Linked DNA regions of Homo sapiens. The protein of the gene in region 2 purifies or fractionates together with the protein of the main gene of each other region. This does not show direct contact. Each region holds a gene or a part of one and is shown on either strand. Other genes may lie near its edges.

The links.
Region 1: the proteins of PRIM1 (region 2) and QPRT purify together in Homo sapiens (co-immunoprecipitation; one large-scale study listed by IntAct). This does not show direct contact.
Region 3: the proteins of PRIM1 (region 2) and KCNJ5 purify together in Homo sapiens (affinity purification with mass spectrometry; one large-scale study listed by BioGRID and IntAct). This does not show direct contact.

What each region holds. Positions count from the first base shown.
Region 1 is NC_000016.10:29,696,087-29,699,251, forward strand, and holds the end of QPRT (nicotinate-nucleotide pyrophosphorylase [carboxylating]), read left to right. Parts: intron 1-906; coding exon of another isoform or gene 907-909; coding exon 910-1,041; intron 1,042-1,112; coding exon 1,113-1,325; 3' UTR 1,326-2,613; downstream 2,614-3,165. UniProt on the Homo sapiens protein: Involved in the catabolism of quinolinic acid (QA).
Region 2 is NC_000012.12:56,731,018-56,735,406, reverse strand, and holds the end of PRIM1 (DNA primase small subunit), read left to right. Parts: intron 1-1,161; coding exon 1,162-1,260; intron 1,261-3,672; coding exon 3,673-3,692; 3' UTR 3,693-3,827; downstream 3,828-4,389. UniProt on the Homo sapiens protein: Catalytic subunit of the DNA primase complex and component of the DNA polymerase alpha complex (also known as the alpha DNA polymerase-primase complex - primosome/replisome) which play an essential role in the initiation of DNA synthesis.
Region 3 is NC_000011.10:128,889,766-128,894,176, forward strand, and holds the start of KCNJ5 (G protein-activated inward rectifier potassium channel 4), read left to right. Parts: upstream 1-1,590; 5' UTR 1,591-1,956; intron 1,957-4,411. UniProt on the Homo sapiens protein: Inward rectifier potassium channels are characterized by a greater tendency to allow potassium to flow into the cell rather than out of it.

The DNA.
Region 1 (3,165 bases), on a different chromosome or scaffold from region 2:
AAACACCCCTTCTAATTTTAATATTCTGAGTCAAATTGAGCTCAGGTCCAAATGCCAAATATTGCTGATATTCATCCACTTTTTGACCCACAAAAGTGGTCATTTTAACCTACAATAAAACATCCTGGCTCAGTGGCTCATACCTGTAATCCCAGCACTTTGGGAGGCCCAGTTGGGGGGATTACTTAAGTCCAGGAGTCTGAGACCAGCCTGGGCCATATAGCAAGATTCTGTCTCTACAAAAAATTAAAAAATTAGCCATGCTTGTGGGCAAGCCCCTGTAGTCCCAGCCACTTGGGAGGCTGAGGTGGGAGGATCACTTGATCCCAGGAGGTGGAGGCTGCAGTGAACTATGACTGCACTGAACTCCAGCCTGGGCGACAGAGCGGGACCCTGACTCAAAAACAAAACAGTGGCCAGGTGCGGTGGCTCACGCCTGTAATCCCAGCACTTTGGGAGGCTGAGATGGGTGGATCACGAGGTCATGAGTTAGAGACCATCCTGGCCACCATGGTGAAACGTCGTCTCTATTAAAAATACAAAAATTAGCTGGGCATGGTGGCACGCACCTGTAGTCCCAGCTACTCGGGAGACTGAGGTGGGAGAATCACTTGATCCCAGGAGGTAGAGGCTGCAGTGAGCTATCATTGCACCACTGCACTCCAGCCTGGGCGACAGGTTGAGACCCTGTCTCAAAAACAAAACAAAGCAAAAACAACCCCAAAGTCTGGTTTCCTTATTAACCCCAAGTTCATGGTCCACCCGAAGCTTTTCAAATGTCAGTCCCGGCTCCCCGCGCCCCAGCTGCAGTGCTGGGCCCTATCGTCACCCTCGCCCTCCCGGCTCCCTGCGCCCCAGTGCCAGGTGCTGGGCCCAGTCCTCACCCTTGTCCTCCCGGCTGCCCAGCAGGCGGTGCGGGCGGCCAGACAGGCGGCTGACTTCACTCTGAAGGTGGAAGTGGAATGCAGCAGCCTGCAGGAGGCCGTGCAGGCAGCTGAGGCTGGTGCCGACCTTGTCCTGCTGGACAACTTCAAGCCAGAGGTAAGGTGGGCTCTGCCTCCGGGGAGGGATCTGTGGTGGGCTCTTACCTCCCCTTGGCTTGTGTCCCGCAGGAGCTGCACCCCACGGCCACCGTGCTGAAGGCCCAGTTCCCGAGTGTGGCTGTGGAAGCCAGTGGGGGCATCACCCTGGACAACCTCCCCCAGTTCTGCGGGCCGCACATAGACGTCATCTCCATGGGGATGCTGACCCAGGCGGCCCCAGCCCTTGATTTCTCCCTCAAGCTGTTTGCCAAAGAGGTGGCTCCAGTGCCCAAAATCCACTAGTCCTAAACCGGAAGAGGATGACACCGGCCATGGGTTAACGTGGCTCCTCAGGACCCTCTGGGTCACACATCTTTAGGGTCAGTGGCCAATGGGGCACATTTGGCACTAGCTTGAGCCCAACTCTGGCTCTGCCACCTGCTGCTCCTGTGACCTGTCAGGGCTGACTTCACCTCTGCTCATCTCAGTTTCCTAATCTGTAAAATGGGTCTAATAAAGGATCAACCACATGGGGTTCTGCGGTGATAATGAGCACATAGTGAGGGGTCAGCAAATGTCAGAAGTTACCTGGGACAGCCGGGCACGATGGCTCACACCTGTAATCCCAGCACTTTGGGAGGCTGAGGCGGGAAGATCACTTGAGTTCAGGAGTTTGAGACCAGCCTGGCCAACATGGTGAAACCCCATCTCTACCAAAAATAGAAGAATTAGCTGGGTGTGGTGGCACGCGCCTGTAATCCCAGCTACTTAGGAGGCTGAGGCAGGAGAATCGCTTGAACCCAGGAAGTGGAGGTTGCAGTGAGCTGATGGTGCCACTGCACTCCAGCCTGGGTGATAGAGCGAGACTCTGTCTCCAAAGAAGAAACAAAGGAAAGAAAGAGAGAAAGAGAGAGGGAGGGAGGGAGGGAGGGAAAGGAAGGATGGAAAGAAAGGAAGAAAGGCAGGCAAAAGCCCCAGACAGGCCAAAACCTTCATCCTTCATGCACCCAACCTGTACCAAACACCAGCATGGCCTGGCTGTGAGTGCACAGCAGATGGAGGTTTGCTGGGCAGAGACACTGGGCTGGCCTAGACACTGCCTTTGGTGATACCCTAAACCAAAGGGGCCAGTCCCACAGTAAGAAGGAGACCACTACTACTCCTGCTGCCCTCCTCCCCCCACCTTGCCTAGTTTACAAGACAGGAGGAAAGAGAGAAAGCAAAAAGTTAGAAAACAAAACAAAACAGAAGTAAGATAAATAGCCAGAAGACCTTGGCGACACCACCCGGCCCTGGTAGTTAAAAAAAAGTAACAATAATAATAATATCAACCCCTGACCTAAACTACTTGTGTTATCTGTAAATTCCAGACATTGTATGAAAAAGCATTGCAAAACTTTCTGCTCTGTTAGCTGATGCGTGTAGCCCCCAGTCACGTTCCCCGCTTGCTTGAGATATCATGACCCTTTCACGTGGACCCCTTAGAGTTGTAAGCCTTTAAAAAGGCCAAGAATTTCTTTTTCAGGGATCTCAGCTATTAAGATGCAAGTCTGCCAATGCTCCTGGCCAAATAAACCTCTTCCTTCTTTAATCCGGTGCCTGAGGAGTTTTGTCTGTGGCTCGTCCTGCTACAAGAGGACACAGCCCAGAGGTGCCACCTGCAGCTGCCCTGTCCCCTCTAATCCCAGCTCCACCCTGCCTGCTCCCGTCCTTCCTCCAGGGGGAACATGGACACGCTCAGATGAACCCCAGCTTCTTATGCCTGAACTGGGGAAACTGAAGCCCCATGGGACCAGGGGTTCCACTGGGCATCAAGGGAGGAAAGTTGAGCCCCGGGGTGATCTGGGAACTGGGATCTGGGATCTGGGCAGGCATTGGGGCCTGACAGAGCAGAAGTGAGGAGAGGGTACCAGGAGCTGCAAACTCGGTGCCTCCAGGACCTATTCGGATAAAATAAATGGGTGGAACTGGAATAAGACAAAGTGGGGGTGCGCTGTGGCCAACTGGAAAATGCTCGTTGCAGCCACAGCGTTCCATTAAAAAAGCGAAAGGAACCTGCCTGCCTGAGTCTTAAGCTCCCCCTAAACCCAGAAATGGGTTAGCCCTCCAGTATCCTCCAGCTCTGAGAGCTGGGGCGGGCACT
Region 2 (4,389 bases):
AAGACATGGGGCCGGGCACGGTGGCTCACGCCTGTAATCCCAGCACTTTGGGAGACTGAGGCAGGTGGATCACGAGGTCAAGAGATCAAAACCATCTTGGACAGCATGGTGAAACCCCGTCTCTACTAAAAATACAAAAACTTAGCCGGGCATGGTGGCACACACCTATAGTCCCAGCTACTCAGGAGGCTGAGGCAGGAGAATCGCTTGAACTCGGGAGGCGGAGGTTCCCGAGCCAAGATTGCACCACTGCATACCAGCCTGGCAACAGAGCAAGACTCAAAAATAAAGGCATGGACCGGGCGCGGTGGCTCACGCCTGTAATCCCAGCACTTTGGGAGGCCAAAGTGGGTGAATCATGAGGTCAGGAGTTTGAGACCAGCCTGGCCAACATGGTGAAACCCTATCTCTACTAAAAATACAAAAAATTAGCTCATTGTGGTGGCGGGCACCTATAATCCCAGCTAGTCGGGAGGCTGAGGTAGGAGAATTGCTTGAACCTGGGAGGCGGAAGTTGCAGTAAGCCGAGATCGCACCATTGCACTCCAGCCTGGGCAACAGAGTGACACTCTGTCTCAAAAAAAAAAAAAAAGAAAATATATGTATATATATTATATATATATATATAAATATAAAAGACTTGTATGAAAGAGAGTATCATATATCTCAATTTTTATTACATGCAAAAATAATATTTTAGCTGGGCATGGTGGCATGTGTCTGTAATCCCAGCACTTTCAGAGGCCGAGGCTGGGAGATCACTCGAGCTCAGGAGTTCAAGACTAGCCTGAGCAACAGAGTGAGACCTCGTCTCTACAAATACCAAAAAAAAAAAAAAAATTGGTTGGGCATGGTGGTACATGCCTGTAGTTATAGCTACTCAGGAAGCAGAGATGGGAAGATCCCTTGAGCCCAGTAGATCGAGGCTGCAGTGAGCCAAGACGGAACCACTGTACTTCAGTCTGCATGACAGAGTGAAATCCTGTCTCAGTAATAATTTCACCTTTTTTAATGTGACTAATATAGTATTTAAAAGTATGTATGTTTCTCTCATATTTCAATTGGGCAGCCCTAGAGAATTCTTATAAGAAACTTAGTTGTGTTTTCATGTTATTCTTGCTGCCAGTATGCTAATTATAATGTACATTCTTCATAATTTAGATTATAAGAAGACCAGTCTAGCACCTTATGTGAAAGTTTTTGAACATTTTCTTGAAAATCTGGATAAATCCCGAAAAGGAGAACTTCTTAAGAAGAGTGGTAAGACGCTATGCCTTTCCCTTCTATCTAGTTAGATCTTATTATTAGTAGAAATGAGCAATTTTTGAGTTCTAGTCTTTCTTTGCCCTCCTCCCAAAATTTACAGATTTATCTTACTATCCTTAATGTTTTGGAAATTGAGGTTCCTTAATTCAATTTAACACATAGTTATTAAACACATTCTAAGTATCAGGTCTATAAGGGAGACAAAGATGAATTAACATCATGCCTCCTTGCCCTTAAGAAGTACTAACTTGGCCAGGCACGGTGGCTCACGCCTGTAATCCCAGCACTTTGGGAGACCAAGGCAGTTGGATCACTTGAGGTCAGGAGTTCGAGACCAGCCTGGCCAACATGGTGAAACCCTGTTTCTACTAAAAATACAAAAAATTAGCTGGGCGTGGTGGCAGGCACCTGTAATCCCAGCTACTCAGGAGGCCGAGACATGAGAATCGCTTGAACCGGGGAGGCAGAGGTTGCAGTGAGCTGAGATCACACCATCGCACTCCAGCCTGGGCAACAGAGCAAGACTCCATCTCAAAAAAAAAAAAGAAGTACTAACTTAATACAAAAAAAAAAGTACAAAATGCTAAGAAAGAGATTTTATCTGATGGACTCTGAGATTTCATATGAAAATGGTGGTATCTGAACTCCTTTCAGTGTAGCTGCTGTAAGAATTCTAATCCCTAGCCGGGTGCAGTGGCTCACACCTGTAATCCCAGCACTTTGGGATGCTGAGGCAGGTGGATCGCCTGAGGTCAGGAGTTCAAAACAAGCCTAGCCAACATAGTAAAACCCCATCTCTACTAAAAATACAAAAAATTAGCTGGGTGTGGTGGTGGGAGCCTGTAATCCCAGCTACTAGGGAGGCTGAGGCAGGAGAATCACTTGAACCCAGGAGGCAGAGGTTGCAGTGAGCTGAAATTGTGCCATCGCACTCCAGCCTGGGCAACAAGAGCAAAACTCCGTCTCAAAAAAAAAAAAAAACCCTAGGCCGGACACGGTGGCTCACACCTGTAATCCTAGCACTTTGGGAGGCCAAAGCAGGTGGATCACCTGAGGTCAGGAGTTCAAGACCAGCCTGGCCAACACGGTGAAACCCCGTCTCTACTAAAAATACAAAAATTAGCCGGGCGTGGTATTGTGCGCCTGTAATCCCAGCTACTTGGGAGGCTGAGGCAGGAGAATCACTTGAAGCTGGGAGGTGGAGGTTGCAGTGAGCCAAGATCGCACCATTGCACTCCAGCCTGGGCAACAGAGCAAGACACTATCTCAAAAAAAAAAAAAATTTCTAATCCCTAATGCCAATATACTATACCATAAGGTATGAGAAGGATTTCCACAAGCAGAAATATGATAAGATAAAGGGTATGGAGGTGGAAAAAGGCCAAGGGTTGTTCATTCTTGAAGGAACATCAAGAGCAAAGACAGACAGGAAAGCATCCAGTTACTCTGGAAGCCATCAAGTAGTACAGCTAATCTAGTATATGGTGTGTCCAGAAGTGATGGGCTATAAATCCAAAGAAGCAAACTGAATGGCCTTGAATTCCAAGCTTATGTGTTTGGGCTTGGTTTTGGGCTTAATAGGAAGCTTTTAAAAGTTCTGAGGAAGGGAATGCCATGATTTGTAGTTTTTATCTAGAAAGATAAATCTGGGCAAGACAGGGACTAGAATAGAGCCCAAGAGGCCAACTGCGCTATTGCCACTAGAACAGTAGCACTGGAGATCTCCGAAAGGTGCAAATACTGGAACCATCCTTGAGACTTGCTAATGATTTAGAAGTGAAGAGATGAAAGATGGAAGGGAAAATGTTATAGAAGCCAGGGGAAAGAAAAGTGCAAGATTATCAAGTGTCAGGTACAGTAGGAAACTAATAAAATCCTGCTGCATATAATAACTGGAAAGAAACACAAAGAGGATAGCAGTGTCAAATGAAGGGTACTCTAAATGGGAGACATATGAGCATATGTATAAGCCAATATGAAAAAAATCAGCAGATTGAATATTATTCAAGAGATGAAGGCTACTCTAGAAAACTGTGACAATGTTATAGCAATACAAATTATCTTGCCACTTCATTTTTTATTTAAATATGTGATAGTTTAAGCAGTAGTGCCTAAGATAATGCTCTACTCAGTAGACACTCATATGTGTGATTATTGGATGAACAACAACTCTGAGCTTGGAAAGCCTGGTTGAAGCTGCCATTGCAACTGGCCGTATTAAGTCCTTTGTATCCTCACTGTTCCATACTAGCTCAGCCTATGATGTGGACTTCAGCAAATGTGTAAGCAAATCTTTGTGCATGATGTGTGTTAAATAGAAGCATTAGGCAAAAAAGAATGTAAAAGTAAATGGGCTTTGTTTTGTTTCCTTTGCTGTTCTTCCATATATTATCTATTCTATTTTAGATTTACAAAAAGATTTCTGAAGACAGAGCTCCTCAAACCATTGTGGATATCTTCTGCCTTCAACCACAGATCAAATACTTCAAGAGCCATTTAATAAATATGGCAGAACTATATATGTGTCTTAAACCTCAAAGTAAATTTTCCTTGAGAAATAATTTATGTTGAAAAGATTTCCTGGCCAAGTGCAGTGGCTCACACCCGTAATCCCAGCACTTTGGGAGGCCGAGGCAGGCGGATCACCTGAGGTCAGTAGTTCGAGACTAGCCTGGCCAACATGGTGAAACCCCCGTCTCTACTAAAACTACAAAAATCAGTCGGGTGTGGTGGTGCATACAGTAATCCTAGCTACTTGGGAGGCTGAGGCAGGAGAATTGCTTGAACCCAGGAGGCAGAGGTTGCAGTGAGCTGAGATCACAGCCACTGGGCGACAGAGCGAGACTCCATCTCAAAAAAGAAACAAAACAAAAAAAAAAGTAAGATTTCCTGAGACGACCAAGGAGAGTGTCAAGGTTCCTGGAAGGAGAAATAAAAGGAGGCATAAGTGGATTGCAGATAATTTTGTAAAATTCAATATTCTACAAGGATAATTCTAAGGCTTCTGATATAAATACCCAGTTCTACTAGTTGCCATATATAGAGGTAAGTGAGCAGTAATAGGACTGTCATCTCAGCTCACTTGATACGTCATATGTTTGGGTGAATGATGGTTTTGTCCTT
Region 3 (4,411 bases), on a different chromosome or scaffold from region 2:
TTATCTGGACCTGAGAACTGCACAGCCAAAGCCTCTCCCAAGAACTAGGCAATTAGGGAATTAAGAACTTTCTCCACAATAGTGTTAAGCCCTGAGGTCAAACAACATATGGTGCAGTGCGTGAGCACCTAGGCAAGCTGAGTCCCCTAAGGGGACACAGAGCTTTCCTGTTAGGGCCTGTTGCAGCCACATTTAACAATCACCCCCTCTACAGAGAGAAGAGGGGCAATCAGGAGGCCCACTCTGGCCGGACCGCTCTGTGCTCTGTCCCAGGGGAGGGTGCCTGGGCAACGGGCTGTGTGTACGCTGGTCTCCGAGGCAAGAGGACCCCCAGGCCACTGTTAGAGACTAAGTTTCCCTGTCACTGTCCTTACAGGAGAGGATGGACTTGGTGCCCTCCAGTATTAGTGACAAGCATTTTTCTCATTGCAACGTAATAAACCAGTTTTCTGGTCGTAGACATCATTCACCTAGCACTTGTGCTAGGTGCTAGGGCACCCCACGTTTGACCAGCTGTGTCTGCCCTGAGAGAGGGGGCTGGCAGGGGGGGTGTTGACCCCAAAAGGCTGGGTAACGGAGAGGGGCCAGAAGGAACACCACCGGGTGAGAAGGGCCACCCCGAACAGACCGGTCCTCAGAGGCACCTGCCGGCCCTCCCCAGACAGCAGCCCTCCCTTTCAGCCTGCCCTGGCAGCTGCCTTTCCTACGGCTTCCACGAATTAAAGAACACACTCTGGTCATCATCTGTCCTCAAGGCAGGTAGGAATCCAAAAGGGAGAGCCGGGAGGTGGCGCGGAGGACGCCGGCTCTGCCCACGCCTGGGCAAGGTTGAGCTCCGTTCCCTCCGGGCTGCTCCCGCCTCCTGTCCGTGCAGGGCGCGTTTCCAGCCATCGCCGCCCAGCCGCCGCCGCACGCCGGGGAGAGATCGTCCGGGGTGAGCAGCGAGCCCGGGGACAGCTAGCCTGGGTCCTGTCCCTGGACCTACTCCCCCTGCAGCTGGCGGATCAGGCCCCCGGACCCTCACTCCACGGCGGGAATCAGAGCCGTCGGGCGGGGGATGCAGCGCCCAGACTGTGGCTCCCCCGCCTTCCCAAAGGAATCCCCCCATCTGCTCCATCCCTCTCGGGAAACGGCGAAATGCTGCCAACCGTCCGCTTAGCGCACCGCGGAGCGACTGAGCAGCCCCGCCGAGGCTCCGAGCCAAGATTTCTGCCCTAATAGTTTCTCCCTTCTTTCTGTCTGCTCCACCGCACCCACTAAATACGCGGCGCTCACACACGGACACGCGTGACACGCGGCGCTCACACACAGGCATGGGACGCTCACACGCGCGCGCGCGGGTCTCCGTCCCTGGCACCCCGCAGCAGGGGTGCAGCCGGGGGCAGGGGGAGCCGGGGGAGGGCGCAGGGGGCCGCGGGGACGCGAGCGGAGGGCTGGATGCCTGCCGGGCTCTCTCTCCGCCTTCCTCTTCCCTCCCAGTCCTGCCGAGCTGACGGCGTCCCGGATCACATGGAGCCCCCGCCCCACCCCAGCCCGCCCCCCGCCGCCAACGCCGGTGGCCCTTCCAGTCGCGTTACTACCCAGAGATTCATTTGTACCAGGGACGGAGGGAGAGAGGAGAGGGAGGAGGGGACACACACACACACACACACACACACACACACACACACACACACAGAGAGAGAGAGAGAGAGAGAGAGAGAGAGAGAGATTGTTCCAGCTGCTCTCGCTAGAGAAAGGGAGTGACCCAAGGGGCCGCGAGTGAAGGGACAGGATGGCTTAGGTACCTCTGCCCACAGGACCCCACAACAGGGAGAGGTTCCAGCTACAGCTCCTCCGTGGGGTCATGGCAGGGGCTGGGGAGTCCCCTCAAAAGCCCTGAGCCCCCCTGCACCGCCGCTAAGGGACACCCCAGAAGTTAGCATCAGTGGGACTCGGAAGCTCCGATCTCAACAAGTAAGTTGTCTTCTTTTCCTCCTCCATTTCTCCCCCAGCTCGCGGGTTCTGGAGGGCAGGATGACACCCTCAGGTGTCCATCACCTGGGCAGCAGGCTTTCACAGGGAACCTGCTAGACTGGGAGCCAGGGGGGATAAGGAAAAGCTTAGGGCAGGTCCAAGTTTAGGAAATTGGAGATCTCCGTGGCTGCAGGCTGCCCTGTGCGTTGGGAGCCCAGCCATAAACACCTTCACTTCTGGCACTAGACCAGGGCTACCTGGGGGTGCCCCAGATCTCCCAGCAGTGGTTTGAGAGGCAACAGTGGCCAGGAGTGGGTGGGGTGTGGAGGACATTTTTCACCTGGTAGGACTCTTCCTTCAAATGGGAGCAGGGAGGGCCAGGATGGGGGGCGGTGCCCCCCTCAGCCTTAGATCCCCAGCCTAATCTTGCTTTCTCTTTTAAGTGTGGCCAAACTGGAAACACGGCCTTGTGATTTCTGCCCCCCTCGCTGCCCAAGTCACTTCCTGCGTACCTCCCTATCTCCTTTTAAAGAGCTTTCAAATGGTTCAGAAAGGCCAGGGGTCAAGCCTGTGAGGACAGAGGATAGGGAACAGAGAAGGCCGGCCTTGTCATTGCTCCCCTTCTCTTCAAGTCAGTGCTTCTCCCTGCAGAGCTGTTGGCCCCCTGGTTTTATCTGTGCCTTCCCTCAAACAGGGCTCTCCAACCCCAGGGGCTGTGGAGGGCCTCAGGTCCGGCCCCCAAAGTTCTAGGGCCTACCCTGAACATCAGGGTGAGCAACACCAGCCCAAAACCTGTTCCAGGAGCCTTTTCAAACACCAGAAGAAGATCAACAGGAACACGCCAAGTATTTTACTCTGTTTCAATCCTTTTAATAAGCTGAGATTATCATCCTCATTCTACAGGTGAAAAATTGAAGCCCAGAGAGGCTGTGCAATTTGCCTCAGGTGCACAGCTCATAAAGGGAGATTCTCTCCTATATCTGACTCCAAAATGTGCCTCGTTTTCATCAAAAGCCATATGGTTTATCGGGCTTTCTGGTTCTCAAAGCACTTTTCCATGTGAGGAAAAGGCTAATATTTATGAAACCAAGGTGCCGAGCTATATACGTTTACATGAGTTCATCTTGACACCAGTCCTGTGGGGCAGAGCTTATTTCTTCTGTTTTATAGATGAGAGTAAGGGTAACAGAATTCCAGGCACTAAGTGGCAGCAGCACTGCTATCTCCAAAACTCTTGTCCTCTGGCTTTAAATCCAGGGTCTTTCCACTAACAAAAGCTAATTCTGAAAGCTGCTCTTGTCTTTCCACATCCCTGCTTTTCCTCAAAGCCAGGTGTAAATTGCATCATCTGGCTGAATGAGGCGCTCAGGCTTCCTGGAATCTGAGGAACGAACAGGGCAGAGCAAATGATGTGGGAGTTAGAGGCCCATGGTTGGACTCTGGCATAAAGAGTTTGGTCAGCTTGGCTGGTATTTTAAACTATCTATGGACCCCACCTGAGATGGCACCATTCTGCCTAGAGGCATAAGGCCTTCAGTGGGAGGCCTGGGGCACAGCGTATGTGCTTCTTGGAAGAGCAGCAGCAGGGCCACCATTGAAAGACAGGAAACAACACATAGAGAAATTGCTGGCTCAGGAGGCTGAGGTAAGGGGATTACTTGAGCCCAGGAGTTCAAGACCAACTGGGGCAACATAGCAAGACCCCATCTCAAAAAAAAAAGAAATAAAAAAGAAAAAGAAAGGATAGAAAATTTGCCTATACATTCCACAAAGCACAAGGATTGTCCCCAGAACAACGTTCTAGACCTACTACCTAGCTCTCCAACAGAAAGGGAACCAGCCACTCAGGCATGGCTGTTTTCTGGCCTCTCCAAAAGCTGCTATAAACTGCCGGCATTACTCACAGGCAGCATTTTTTAAGTAGCCTGCCTGTGCTCTATCCAGTGAGCAGTTCAGCTAAAGGAGGAGCCAAGGGTGAGGGGGGGGGTCAAAGCGAACCTGGGCCACATTCACTCTGCCCAGGGCTGTCCCCAAAGCTTAGCTGTCTTCTCTGGGATGAAGTCAGATCTTAGTGGGGTTCCCCACCATGGCTTCCCTGGAGTCTGCTGGCAAGTCCTGAGCAGTGCAGAGCTCTTTGTCTGTGGGTCCAGCAGAGACACGTGTGTGGCCCTGTCACAGCAGTACTCAGCCTCGCTGTCCCTGGTGCCAAGCAAAATCCCTTTGGGGCTTTCTGCAAGCACCTGACTGGGTTTCTTGTCCAGGAATTTGGGAGACTCTGAAGGCTGCTCTAGTCATCCGTGATGAAGTAAACCCCCAAGGAGGGAAGAAACGACTAGAATGCCCATTCTCTGGTTTCCATTTCCCCTTCAAATGACCTGATTCTTCCTGCCTGCGGTGGGCGAAGCCACAAACAGGTGTCCTGTGCTTTCATGTACTTGAAAACTGCATCCACTTC